Homo sapiens: one gene and its partners. The protein of the gene in region 2 interacts with the protein of the main gene of each other region in a biochemical or structural test. Each region holds a gene or a part of one and is shown on either strand. Other genes may lie near its edges.

What was found. The genes of interacting proteins can lie anywhere in the genome.
Region 1: the proteins of SMARCA4 (region 2) and SIN3B form a complex in vitro, tested with the Homo sapiens proteins (one study listed by BioGRID).
Region 3: of the proteins of SMARCA4 (region 2) and CHFR, one has a biochemical effect on the other in vitro, tested with the Homo sapiens proteins (one study listed by BioGRID).
Region 4: the proteins of SMARCA4 (region 2) and MYOCD form a complex in vitro, tested with the Homo sapiens proteins (one study listed by BioGRID).

Annotation. Positions count from the first base shown.
Region 1 is NC_000019.10:16,877,624-16,880,849, reverse strand, and holds the end of SIN3B (paired amphipathic helix protein Sin3b), read right to left. Parts: coding exon 3,211-3,226; intron 2,668-3,210; coding exon 2,460-2,667; intron 2,354-2,459; coding exon 2,123-2,353; 3' UTR 501-2,122; downstream 1-500.
Region 2 is NC_000019.10:11,030,530-11,034,029, reverse strand, and holds part of SMARCA4 (SWI/SNF-related matrix-associated actin-dependent regulator of chromatin subfamily A member 4), read right to left. Parts: intron 3,301-3,500; coding exon 3,137-3,300; intron 741-3,136; coding exon 513-740; intron 264-512; coding exon 165-263; intron 1-164. UniProt on the Homo sapiens protein: ATPase involved in transcriptional activation and repression of select genes by chromatin remodeling (alteration of DNA-nucleosome topology).
Region 3 is NC_000012.12:132,877,606-132,881,105, forward strand, and holds part of CHFR (E3 ubiquitin-protein ligase CHFR), read right to left. Parts: intron 50-3,500; coding exon 1-49. UniProt on the Homo sapiens protein: E3 ubiquitin-protein ligase that functions in the antephase checkpoint by actively delaying passage into mitosis in response to microtubule poisons.
Region 4 is NC_000017.11:12,759,890-12,763,389, forward strand, and holds part of MYOCD (myocardin), read left to right. Parts: intron 1-244; exon of another isoform or gene 245-760; coding exon 761-818; exon of another isoform or gene 819-3,183; coding exon 3,184-3,500. UniProt on the Homo sapiens protein: Smooth muscle cells (SM) and cardiac muscle cells-specific transcriptional factor which uses the canonical single or multiple CArG boxes DNA sequence. Acts as a cofactor of serum response factor (SRF) with the potential to modulate SRF-target genes.

The DNA of each region.
Region 1 (3,226 bases), 5.8 Mb from region 2:
GGGGCTTCTGCTACCCGGAAGCAGGTGTGGAGCTTGGGATGCAGACAGGGGGCAGGAGATGAGGAGAAAATGATGGTGAAAGCCAGGAAGTGGGTGGGGCCCCAAGGAGTACAGAGGGTGGTCGTGTGGGGTGGGTGGGCAGGCATGGGCCTGGACGGATAGGTTGGGCATGGGAAGCTTAGAACAAACACCTTAGAGCAAACACCATGATCTTTAAATTGGGTTCTGCATGAGAGACACTCGGGCGAAGGAGACGCTTCTAATTCCCACTAAATGTGCAAATGGAATGGGGAAAGAATATTCTAGAAGACACTCCCATGTCGTGGCGGGGCAGGTGCAGGGTGTGAGATGATCTTGGTTCAAGGAGGGGCTTCGACTCCCCTGGTCCCAGGTAGGCACACCCAGCCACCCCTTGCTCTCATGGGTCCAGCCCACTGACCTGGTGGCAGGAAGTCAGCAAGGCTCTCACAGGAAGACCAACACACCCTCACGGCTTGATGTCAATATTCAATTATTAACTTTAATGTGCAAATAAATAGAAAAGGAAAACTACATTCAAAACAGCTGCAAAGGAAGGACAAGCCCCAGAACAGAAATTCCTCAAGAACGGAAAAGAGGCGCTCCCTAGAAGCATGCGGGGATGGGAATACTGGGAGGAGGGGCTCGGCGGGGTCTCCGGCTGCACCCGGGGCCCAGGTGGCTCTGCCCGAGACGGCCGTGGGCCTGGTACAGGAATCTTGATGGCAAGTTCCCTTCTTAGAAAACCAGGATGTGTACAAAGTGCCTGTGTGACACTTGGGGAGCGGGGGTGGGGAGCCCAGGAGGACGGGTCAGCATCGGAATCGCCCAGCCTGGAGTCAAAGGCATCAGGAGCCTCCAGGTTCCACAGGAAACTTCTAGAAACACATCTCCACTTCCTGGAAACTTGAGTCCAGCTGTTGCAGGATGGCAAGGGTGGCGGTTATTCTGGGCCTACTGGTGTGCAGGGGCCAGGGCCAGGGGCTCTCATGGTCGGGGAGAGAGGCCTGGAGAAGTGGTCCCCAGCCCCAGTCACTTGGGATTCTTGGCACAGAAAGCCTTGGATGCCTCCATGGGACAGTCGCCTCAGCCCCTCACAAAAGGACAACAATGATCCCTGGAGTGGCCGCGTGGGTCCCAGGGTGGGTGGGCGGATGGGGCTCCTTGGGTGGCGGCTGGGACTGTCAGGGCGGCTCTCGGAGTTCCACAAAGGGAGATCTCAGCCCCAGGGAGCCGCAGGACTTGGCTGCTACAGAAATAACAACCACTAAAAGCGAAAGGAATAAATATCTGTGCGTGTATACACATACGCCTAGGGTGCCCACTGCAGGAACACGACTGGGCCCGCCGCCCCACAGCAGGGTCGTGCCGGCTCTGAGGGAATACTGGCTGGGGTCCCTCCCCTTGTGGGCCCAGAGTCCAGCTGCTGGAGTTGGGGTTGGGTGTCTTATCCAGAGCGGGGTCTCCCAGGGCACTGCCCGCCTGCTCCAGCTCTGGACTTCAAAATGGGATCCCAAAGGTTTGGCTGAAGGGTTCTTCTCACTTCCAAAGTGACTGAGGGCCTGAACACCAGCCAGGCAGAGCTGATGCCCAAACCCTCAGATGATGTTTCTGGCAGCTCTGAGAATATTCTGGAAGGACTCACTTTTCAAGCAAGCCTACCCAGGGCTCAACTCCTTCCTTGTCAGGGTCTCTTGGACATGGACCCCCTCCAAAGTGTGGGCCTCAGGAGGGCTGTCACCTGTGACTTTTCCAAGACACGGCAAGAATATGGGGCAGGAGCCATCTGCCTGCCAGGGATTTGGCACATGTGACGGACGGGGACGCAAACATGATTGCTTGTTCCTCGGCCAGCACGTCCACCCGCCCCTGTGGTGGGGCTGAGCCCCAGGGCTCGGGTGCAGGTAGCTCAGGTTTGGCACACAGCAGGCCCACAGGAGACCGGGAGCCACGGGGGCGGCGTCCTGCCCTGGAGTGCGCTGTCCGGCAGCAGAGGGGCTGGGAGATGCCTCTCACGTCGTTCAAGAAAACGGCCCCGACACGACCAAGGCCGAGGGCACGTCTGTGCTCTGTGAGGCGCCTGCCCGGTGCCCATGAGGGCGGGTCAGGGCGAGGCCGGGCGGCGGCTGTACTGCACGCGGTAGCGGGTCACGGGCAGGCCGTGCACGTGCACTGTCTCACACAGCGTCTTGCAGGGTACCATGTCCTCGTCCTCCTCACCCATCAGCCAGTCCTGCACCAGGCTAGCCGCCTCCACCGTCACATTGTCCTCCAGCCAGCGGCTGTGCCACTCCTCAAAGTGCTGGTGGTGGCGGAGCAGGACCAGGGGCTGCACCTGTTGAAGAGGCCGGGTGTCAGGGCAGCTGAGGGCTGGACCCCCAGGGCCCCAGGACTTGGGGTGAGGAGGGGCATGTCGGGGCAGCCCAGGCCTCCCCTGGCACCTGCTTGGCCCGGCAGAGGGTCCCGCGACGGTACATGTAGTCCTCGGAGTTCACGATGAACACCATCTTGTGAGTGCTGAGCTTGAAGCGGCAGTCCACGTCGCAGGCGCTCTCCACGCCCACCAGCCGCTTCCAGGAGCTCCTGGCCTCACCGCGCAGGGCCCGCGCCTGCTCGCTCTGCCACCGGCGGCGGAACTTCTTGAGGTTCCTGGGGGCGAAAGGAGGTGGAATGGACTCTGGCTCTCGGCATTGTGGGAGGAGGATTTGCAGGCTGGGAAACCCCCAGGCCTGGGACCATCAGAAGATGTGCTACCTCCCAGGGGTCCACAGAAAGCAAATGGAAGCAACAAGAAATGCCCCCAGATCTGAACACCCACCAGCAGCCCCCACTGGTCCCATAGGTGCCATCCTAGCCCGACCTGAGGTGGTCCAGGGTCCTGCCACAGCCACCCGCCTCTGGCCTGGCCCCACCAGCTCTGGCAGCGTCTCCCTCCAGTCCGGGCATTCACTCTTCACCCACTGACGCATCGTGGGGTTGGCCTTGCCCCTCCTACACCTCACCGTCCTGGGGTTACTAATCCCTCCACTGCAAACCACAAGCCTCAAAAGGGCAGGGCCTGCCTCAGCACACAGCAGGCACCTACTAAGTGCTCCCAGACAGTGTGCCATGGTCCAGCCCCCGTCAGGACAAAGGGGACACTCCCTGGGCCCAGGAAGGAAGGAACAGAGCATGCATCTCAGGGCCTCTTACCTCTGCAGGAACACAG
Region 2 (3,500 bases):
CTGGTGGTCCCGGCACGGCTGCGGTGGATGGGGACCCACACGGCAGCGAAAGGCACACACACGCACACGCACACGCACGCTCCGTGGGACCAGGGCCCTTGCTGGCCGTCTCAGCCGAGAAGCCGAGGATTGAATGGGCATGGAGACTGAACTACCCCTCTCACCTTTAGAGGTGGCTCCTCCAAGTCGGGGTTGACGCCCGCTGGCGGAGGGGCAGTGTGGGCGAAGCTGGCACTGCCGCTGCCCGTGCTGCAGTGTCTGCTCTGTGGATAAATAGAGGACTTCAGTCTCCAGGGCTGTCAATCCGGCGTCTTTCACCAGCAGTTTAGAAAAAAAAACCACTTCAAAGAAAAAGCAAGTACTCATCCTCTTTCCGTTCAGCCCACACTCCCTTTACTCCAAAGGGATGCAAAAAAAATAAGAGTGCAAAAAAGGTAAAAAAACAAAAATGAAAGCCGCTCACGCGTCCACCATTCACGCTGGGGAGGGGTCGGGGCCGGTGCTGGGCTCACCTCATCCTGCTCCTCGTGCTCCAGGATGGCCTGCAGGAAGGCGCGCCGCTCATGGCTGGAGGACTTCTGGTCGAACATGCCGGCCTGGATCACCTTCTGGTCCACGTTGAGCTTGTACTTGGCTGCAGCTAGGATCTTCTCCTCCACGCTGTTGACGGTGCAGAGGCGGAGCACACGCACCTCGTTCTGCTGCCCGATGCGGTGGGCTCGGTCCTGCGCTTGCAGGTCCTGGGGGAAGAGGTGCCAGTCAGTCCCAAAGGAGCCCAGGAGGTCATAAAAGGGAAGGTGGCCTCTGACACTAGCTGGAGAGGTGTGCTGTGCGTGCCACCCTCGGCCTGACAATTCTGCCCAGCCTGACCTGCCGCCGCATGAAAACAGAGCTGGTGGAGCCTGGGCCGCCATGTGTCCCTCGGGGGAAGGGGACTCTCATCACGTTCCTCCAGAAGTGCCACCTTCTACCTTATTGGGACCCCACAGATATTCGGGAAGAAAGCACCAACCCCCCAGGGGATTATATTCTCAAGCAGCTCCCGTGGCAGCGGCACAGCTCCCCACAGCGTGGACCTACACAGTCGAGCACCATTTACAACAGGGGGCCGAAGCTCGGCCGTGTTGTGGCAGTGCTTGGTTTGGCTGTGGGCCCTGCCACTCTCACAGTGCACACAGAACCGGAACCAGGTCTCACCTCTGTGAGCCTCAAAACTCCCTCAGCCTACATGGGGCCCAACCCGTGGCTACTGCATACCTCGAATGAGTGAATAAGCACCAGGAGTGTGGCCCAGTGACTGGTGCAGTTAGCTCCCAACAATGCAGGTGCCGTGGATGGGCTTTTTTTCTTTTTTTTTTTTTTTGAGACAAAGTCTCGCTCTGTCGCCCAGGCTGGAGTGCAGTGGTGCGATCTCAGCTCACTGCAACCTCTGCCTCCCGAAGTTCAAGCGATTTTTCTGCCTCAGCTTCCTGAGTAGCTGGGGCTACAGGCATGCACCACCATGCCTGGCTAATTTTTGTATTTTTAGTAGAGACAGGGTTTCGCCATGTTGGCCAGGCTGGTCTCGAACTCCTGACCTCAGTTGATCCACCCACCTCGGCCTCCCAAAATGTTGGGATTTCGGGTGTGAGCCACTGCGTCCAGCCTGGGTTGTTAGTTTTATCATCACCCCAGCACAGTACGAGGAGGCTAACACGAAATCCTGTCTCTGGGCCCAGGAGCTGCAGGACCAGGGTGAGTACCAGTGATGCTCTGAAACTTAAGACTGGCACCCATGGGGTGGCAGAGGCCACAGCTGGTGGGGACCAGGAGTGCCTTGTGTCTGCCGCTCAGCCCTCCTGCCCTGTCAGCACACTTCCTGGCAGGGCCAGCCCTCCCCAACGCGCCCCCAGCCCTGAGGTGCAGCTTCCGCCTGCTGCCGGCCTGCCAACGGGGACACACAACTCAACCACCTCCTAAGAAACTGGCTGGTCACCAGGGTCTGGGCAGAAGCTACACCCCAGCCTGATCGTAAAAGGGGCCACCAGTGACCACCACGGCATTCACCCATCAGACAAGCGACAATTTACACACTGAGAACGCTGCTGCCCTCACGCTGCAGGGAAGGGCAGGGTACATTCACACCCCAGCGTAGGAGTGAAACCACTTTGGCAGTAGCAACCAGAACACGAAGAGGACAATGTCTGGGGTGGAGCGACCCCATGTCTGAGGGCTGCGCAGACCTAGGGTGTTTGCACAAGCACTCTGAGAGAAAGAGGGACCCTGCTGGGTTGGTGACCAGGCTGATCAACAGAAAAGACGGATGCCTGCCAACCAGAGTTTGAGAGCAGACGTCCAGGGGTGGCCATCTGCCGGGACGCCTGGTGGCCGATTAGATGGCTGGGTAGCTTCCGATGTGCACTCGGCGGTTGACACCCACTGCTTGGTGGAAGAGGCACATGCTAGGCCACGCCGCATCTGTGTTAATCTCAGTACATACATGTGCGAAGGCAGATGGGCTGGCAGAGGCTCAGAAGAGAGCACGGTTGGAGAGGAAGGGAAAAGGGACTCCTGACTGTCACTGGTGTTTACATGTTAAAAACAATAAGAACTTATCAGTCTTATAATGAAACACAGAGAAAAGTTTAACTCATTTTCAAATTCTTGTAGCTATGTAACAGCATGACCTGGTATCCACCGATGCCGAGGCCCATGAGGGGTACATGGTTATGGAACAAGAGGAGGAAGTAAACGAAGTGGCATGGAGTTTACCCCCAATTGTGTCTGAACAAGCGCCAGTGTGTGTGCTCACAGGGCACACTGCAGGGGCCGCCCCACAGTGACGGCGCAGATTGATCAGGATACTTTCCACCTCCTCATGGGTGCCATTCCAAGATTTAAGAAAAACCAAACCGACGGATGGCTTATACACTGCTTTCCCAATCAGAGGGAAAGGCTGTTTGTATTTTGGGAAACAGGAGGACCCCGCCTCTTTTCTCCCTGATGACCTATGGAGATATGGGTGCAGCTCCTCCCGGCTCCTGGGGTCCAAGACAATGTGGAGGAGGCTGGAGGACCCTCAAGCCAGGGCCGTCTCCTCGAGGTTTTGCAGGCACCCCCTTCCTTCTCCTCGACCTGGGGCCCGGCCCGCTTTTACCTGGTGAGGATTCCAGTCGCTGTCAAAAATGATCACAGTGTCTGCCGACTGGAGGTTCAGGCCGAGCCCCCCAGCCCGGGTGCTGAGCAGGAAGATGAAGTACTCAGAGCCGGGCTCGTTGAAGGTTTTCAGCAGCATGCCCCGGTCCTCCGCCTTCGTGGTTCCTGACGGGCACAGAGGAGAACAGGGTCAGCGGGGTGACCTCAGGGGTAGAGTGGGGACACCAAGGAACACCTGCTTCTGAGAGCAGGAGCAGGATCAGCACCTGCCAGCATCCCCAGATCCCTGGCTCCGCACTCTCCACACGGGCCTGTGGGCCACTGGCGAATAACTGGATTTCCAGTGTTTCACCACAAAACGTCTC
Region 3 (3,500 bases), on a different chromosome or scaffold from region 2:
CAGTGATCTCCAGAGACCAGTTTATTGCTGGGGAAGGAAAGGTCGCAACCTAAAAAAGAGAGGGTGGGTCAACACGGGATATGATCGTGGTAACTGTGAACACTACTGCACTTTGTTTACCAAAGTATGTGGTTCCAACTCAGGATCCCCATTGTACATATGTAAAAAAAAACACTTGACCAAGAAAGACATAAAGAAATTTTTTTTTTTTTCTTGAGACGGAGTCTCGCTCTGTCGCCCAGGCTGGAGTGCAGTGGCACCATCTCGGCTCACTGCAAGCTCCGCCTCCCAGGTTCACACCATTCTCCTGCCTCAGCCTCCAGAGTAGCTGGGACTGCAGGCGCCCGCCATCACGCCTGGCTAATTTTTTGTGTTTTTAGTAGAGACGGGGTTTCACCATGTTAGCCAGGATGGTCTCGATCTTTTGACCTCATGATCTGCCCACCTTGGCCTCCCAAAGTGCTGAGATTACAGGCGTGAGCCACCGCGCCCGGCCCATCCTGAACCTTTCTGAATCCCCACCCTCTCAAAGACACCCATCAATACCTCCAGTTACACACAGCCTCTTAAATGGCAATTTTACAGCCAGGCGCAGTGGCTCATACTTGTAAACCCAGCACTTTGAGAAGCTGAGGTGAATGGATCACGAGGTCAGGAGTTCGAGACCAGCCTGGCCAACACAGTGAAACCCCATATCTACTAAAAATACAAAAATTAGCTGGGCATGGTGGCGGTTGCCTATAATCCCAGCTACTTGGGAGGCTGAGGCAGGAGAATCGCATGAACCCAGGAGGCAGAGGTTGCAGTGAGCTGAGATCGCGCCACTGCACTCCAGCCTTGGCGACAGAGCTAGACTCCAACTGGAAATAAAAAAAAAAAAAAGCAATTTTACAATATGCTTGCATACACAGCTAACCTGATGAGTATTATTAGAACTTTAAAAAAACTCAGGGGGTTGGCTAGGTCCGGTGGCTCACACCGAGGCGGGCAGATCACAAGGTCAGGAGATCGAGACCATCCTGGCTAACACAGTGAAACCCCATCTCTACTAAAAATACAAAAAATTAGCCGGGCGTGGTGGCGGGCGCCTTGTAATCCCAGCTACTCAGGAGGATGAGGCAGGAGAATGGCGAGAACCCGGGAGGAGGAGCTTGCAGTGAGCCGATATGGCGCCACTGCACTCCAGCCTGGGTGACAGAGCAAGACTCTGTCTCAAAAAAAAAAAAAGAAAAAAAAAAACTCAGGGGCTTAAGTAATTCTTCAGTATCTTAATTTAGTCCTTAATTTCTTTTCTGTGTAAACTTAGGTTTCATAAATCAACATAAAATTGAAGCAATGACAGTCACAGAAAAAGTGACTGAGCCAACTGTGATAGGCATTTGTTTTTTTTTTTGTTTTTGTTTGTTTTTTTTTTTTTGAGATGGAGTCTCGCACTGTCGCCCAGGCTGGAGTGCAGTGGCACCATCTCGGCTCACCACAACCTCCACCTCCCAGGTTCAAGCCATTCTCCTGCCTCAGCCTCCTGAGCAGCTGGGACTACAGGCATGCGCCACCATACCCAGCTAATTTTTTGTATTTTTAGTAGAGACGGGGTTTCACCATGCTGGTCTTGAACTCCTGACCTCTTGATCCACCCGCCTCAGCCTCCCAAAGTGTTGGGATTACAGGCTTGAGCCACCGCACCTGGCCTGCGATAGGCATTTGTACACGTATAAGAAACTGCATCTTATATACAGGGATGCATCTATAGCTGAATACAGTAATTCTGACACTTTGGGATTTTTTTTTTCTTTTTTTTTTTTTGAGACGGAGTCTCTTTCTGTGGCCCAGGCTGGAGTGCAGTGGCACGATCTCAGCTCACTGCAACCTCTGCCTCCCGGGTTCAAGCGATTCTCCTGCCTCAGCCTCCTGAGTAGCTGGGATTACAGGCGCACACCACCAGGGCCAGTTAATTTTTGTATTTTTAGTAGAGATGAGGTTTCACAATGTTGGCCAGGATGGTCTCGATCTCTTGACCTCGTGATATGCCCGCCTCGGCTTCTCAAAGTGCTGGGATTACAGGCGTGAGCCACCAGCGCCCGGCCCTGAATACAAAAGCAAGAGGGAAAATCCTCAATACTTGCCCTCTCCTTAAATCAAAAGAACAAAGGCGTTTTAATATCTCATCATTAATCATTACTGCCTATAATAATCTATAAGGATACATAAAGATACTAGAAGACAAAAAAGCGAAGGGTTTGGTCAGGAGACAGTGGCATGCAAACATACTTTTCCTAAACGTTCCACACAGAAAGACACCCTGAATCTGCTTTAGCCTGAGCCTTGCTCCCATCACTGACCTATGGGTGTGTGAATCAGAAGACTCAGTATTGTTAAAATGTCAGCTGTCCTCCAGATTGTTTCATACATTCAATGCAATTCCAGTCAAAATCCCAGAGGGCTTGTAGACACTGACAAGCTGATTCTAAAGTTCACAGAAAAAACGTGTAGAAAAACCAAAGCAATTTTGAAAAAGAATGAAGCTGGAAGACTCATATTACTTAACTGACTTACCATCATGCTATAGTAAACAATACAGTATTGTGGCTGTGTAAGGATGGCCAGACAGAGACAAATGTAAAATCTAAAACTATGAAACTTCCAGTGGAAAAGACAGGCAAAAATCTTAGTGCCGTTGGGTCTTGCATGGACTTCGCAGATAGGATATAAAAAGCACAAACCAGGAAAAAATAATAATAATAAGCTGAGGTTTGTCAAAAGTAAAATGTGGGCCAGGTGCCGTGGCTCACACCTGTAATCCCAGCACTTTGGGAGGCCAAGGGGGGGGCGGATCACAAGGTCAGGAGATCGAGACCATCCTGGCTAACATGGTGAAACCACGTCTCTACCAAAACTACAAAAAATTAGCTGGGCGTGATGGCGGGCGCCTGTAGTCCCAGCTACTCAGGAGGCTGAGGCAGAAGAATGGCGTGAACCCAGGAGGTGGAGCTTGCAGTGAGCCAAGATGGTGCCACTGCACTCCAGCCTGGGCAACAGAGCAAGACTCCGACTCAAAAAAAGAAAAAAAAAGTCAATTCTGGGCCAGGCGTGGTGGCTCACACCTGTAATCTCAGCACGTTGGGAGGCCGAGGCGGGCGGATCACAAGGTCAGGAGTTCAAGACCAGCCTGACCAACATGGTGAAACCCAGTCTCTACTAAAAATACAAAACTTAGCCAGGCATGGTGGCGGGCGCCTATAATCCCAGCTACACGGGAGGCTAAGGCAGGAGAATGGTGGGAACCCAGGAAGCGGAGGTTACAGTGAGCCGAGATCACGCCACTGCACTCCAGCCTGGGCGACAGAGCGAGACTCTGGCTCAACAACAACAAAAAAAGTAAGGCTGGGGGCGGTGGTTCACGCCTATAATCCCATCACTTTGGGTGGCCAAGGCGGGCGGATCACTTCAGACCAGGACTTCGAGACCAGCCTGGCCAACAGGATGAGACCCCATCTCGACTA
Region 4 (3,500 bases), on a different chromosome or scaffold from region 2:
ACAACTGAACCGACTCTAAAGTACCCTGTGCTAGAAAGCATTCTGCCTTCTTTTTCCCTTCTCCTGTTGTAGTAGACTGTTTCATTCAGTAGATTATCTGCCTAAAATTACTACTGAAGCTTAATCAGACATGGTTTAAAAATTTTTAGGCAATAGACCTATGTTCATAGCAGCATTATTCACTGTAGCCCAAAGGTAGAAACAACCCATATGTTCATTGACAAATGAATGGATAAACAACATGTGTTATATCTATACAATGGAATTTTATTCAGTCTTTAAAAAAAAGAAATTCTGACACATGTCACAACATAGATCAACCTTAAGGACATTACGCTTAGGGAAATAAGCTAGTTGCAAAAGAATAAATACTGTACGATTCGCTTCTATGAGGGACTTAGATAGAATAGTCAAATTCGTAAAGGCAGAAAGGAAAATGGCGGTTGCCAGGGGCTAAAGGATGGGGTGTGGGAAATTATGGTTGAATGGGTACACGATTTTAGTCTTGCAGGATGAAAAGAATTCTGAAGACAGATGGTGGTGATGGTCACACAATTGTGTGAATGTACTTAATGCCCCTTAACTGTACACTTAAAAATGGTTGATAGTAAATTTAAAGTTATGTGTATTTTGCCACAATTGGAAAAAAAAATACCTTGACCAAACCTAGTTCAAAATCTTGCAGTGCTGCTTCTAATGATTTCCTACGGAGATAACCACCTTCTAAATTGTCTGTCCTCCTTTGGTTAATTTGTAATAGCAAATGACCCGGAGTCAGCAGATGGATGAACTCCTGGACGTGCTTATTGAAAGCGGAGGTAAGACTGCCTGTGTCCTGTCCATTAGGACATTCTGAGCCCACATGAACTCTAAGGAATGAACTCTCGGTACCAAGATCAGATGCACACTGTGAGTTGGATGTACCAGGTAGTCCTCAGGGAGAGCCATTTCCTTTGAGCTTCTCGCACATTTTTAGAGCTGATAAAAGAAGGCTTAGTGGATGATTCCTCACTGCCTTTGTCCTAGGAGCATTTTTCAGCAATCATTTTAATAGTTTTCATGTTTCAGCCTAATCCTTGTTTCCTTAAGTGTTTTCTCTTGCTGCACTTCTTCTTTCTATGTTCTAATCTCAATGCCCCTACCTTCTCAATTATAATAAAAGAAAAAAGCAGATAATGAACATTTTGTGCTACCTACTCAAAGTGAAATTCAATTAGCAACCTTCCACTGGATGGTTCATTCATGCTTAAATGTTATACATGCTAGCAATAAAACATAATCAGCATGTTCTTTTTGTCACCTTTTAATTTGTTCATTTATTTACTTAAAAAATTATGGAGTGTGTACCTAGAATTTTAAACCACACAAATGAATAAGATGACCTAAGGAGCATGTGTAGATCAAAATAAAAGCACTCAGGGAGGAATCCTTAAGCCAAAAACATTTAAAATTTCAGAGACGGAGGTAGCAAAGGACTCAGAGAAGGGGTAGCCAGGCGTTGTCATAGTCTCCGTGCTATGATCAGACAAGATCCTGATTCCTATGGAGTTTACAGTCTGGTAAGGGAGACAGACAACAAGCAAGTGAACAGACCTTTCCTCCATTGTAGCAAGAGGGAAGAAGGAAGAGATGGGTACAAACATATGTATGTAAATGAGTTCTGTAATGGAAAGATGAGAAGAGTTCATATCAGATGCCCATACACACACACACACACACACACACACACACACACACACACACACACATTTTTGAGACGGAGTCTCACTCTGTCGCCAGGCTGGAGTGCAGTGGCGGGATCTTGGGTCACTGCGACCTCCGCCTCCTGGGATCAAGCGATTCTCCTGCCTCAGCCTCCCAAGTAGCTGGGACTACAGGCGCGTGCCACCACGCCCAGCTAATTTTTTGTATGTTTAGTAGAGACGGGGTTTCACCATGTTGGCCAGGATGGTCTCAATCTCTTGACCTCGTGATCTGCCCACCTAGGCCTCCCAAAGTGCTGGGATTAAAGGCGTGAGCCACCACGCCCAGCCTGCCCTTGTATATTTTTAATGAAATATGTGGCAAGGCCAGAAAAGCGTGAGGATGCAGAAGGGGAGTGTGGAAGATTCAGGGGAAGAAGAGCAGTTATGACTTAATCATGAATGAACTGAGTTTTCTGGAGAAACACAGCTGGGTTGTTTTGCAGTCTTAAATGCCAGTTGTAGGTCTGACCTCAGAAATCTAAAGTGAAACCAAGTCAGCTTAGTTGTTTAATTTTTCTCTTGCAATGTTCTGCTGATCCAGAGCATGCTCAGCGAAGGCAGATGATCAGGTTCCTCCAGGTGTGGGGTTCTGCCAAAAATACAGGCTAGACAAGGAAAGAAGTGAAGACCAGAGGGGCTGGTGGACAGTGATAACATAGTAGAGTCTATGGATTAGTGTGACTGTAAATGGTTGGGAAATTATTGTTACAAGGTACATAATAAGTGGCTTGGAGGGTTGGGAGAGGATGGACAGAGAATAGAAAATATAGCTTGAAAGTGAGCTTTCAGAGGGATGCAGTATTTGGAGATGACACAATCCAAGGTGTGTCTGACAGAGTGGCAGTGGGGGAATCACTGGAGTTGAGGAGGAAGTCGGGAGCTCAGAGGCCAGCATGAACACTGTGATTTCCAAGGATGCTCAGGTTACAGAATGAGAAGGGTTCAAGTGGGGAAAAGGCAATGGAGTAGGAAGCAGAGTTTTCAGTAGATGAGGGGGAGTGACCAGGAGGCTAGGGGTGAGGCATTGCTGTCACCCTCAAAACCCAAAACTGCTGAGTTGTCATCAGAAGCGGGGGGAGTAGCAATCAGAAAGTGGCAATGGCATGGCGCCTGGTCCCTCATCTTCAGGCCCTCACTGATGGTGTTGGGATGGACTCAGTGTCCTCAAGGGACTACCAGGGGTCAGAGGAGTAGGCCAGGAACCTTCAGAGAAGAGAGTTTAATAATCACAGAGTGGAATTCCCAAGAGGAAAGGGTTTGGGAAAAACCAGAGGGAAGATGAATTGGAGATTGATAGAGCAGCTTAGAGATGAGACTGGGTGGTGAGCGGTGACCAGGGAAGCGTGGCCATCTTCTGTATCTAAGTGTAACTCACTCATATTGTGTGGCATGCTCAATTTGAAGTGATTTAACAAGTCACATCGTGTATTGCCCACAGAAATGCCAGCAGACGCTAGAGAGGATCACTCATGTCTTCAAAAAGTCCCAAAGATACCCAGATCTTCCCGAAGTCCAACTGCTGTCCTCACCAAGCCCTCGGCTTCCTTTGAACAAGCCTCTTCAGGCAGCCAGATCCCCTTTGATCCCTATGCCACCGACAGTGATGAGCATCTTGAAGTCTTATTAAATTCCCAGAGCCCCCTAGGAAAGATGAGTGATGTCACCCTTCTAAAAATTGGGAGCGAAGAGCCTCACTTTGATGGGATAATGGATGGATTCTCTGGGAAGGCTGCAGAAGACCTCTTCAATGCACAT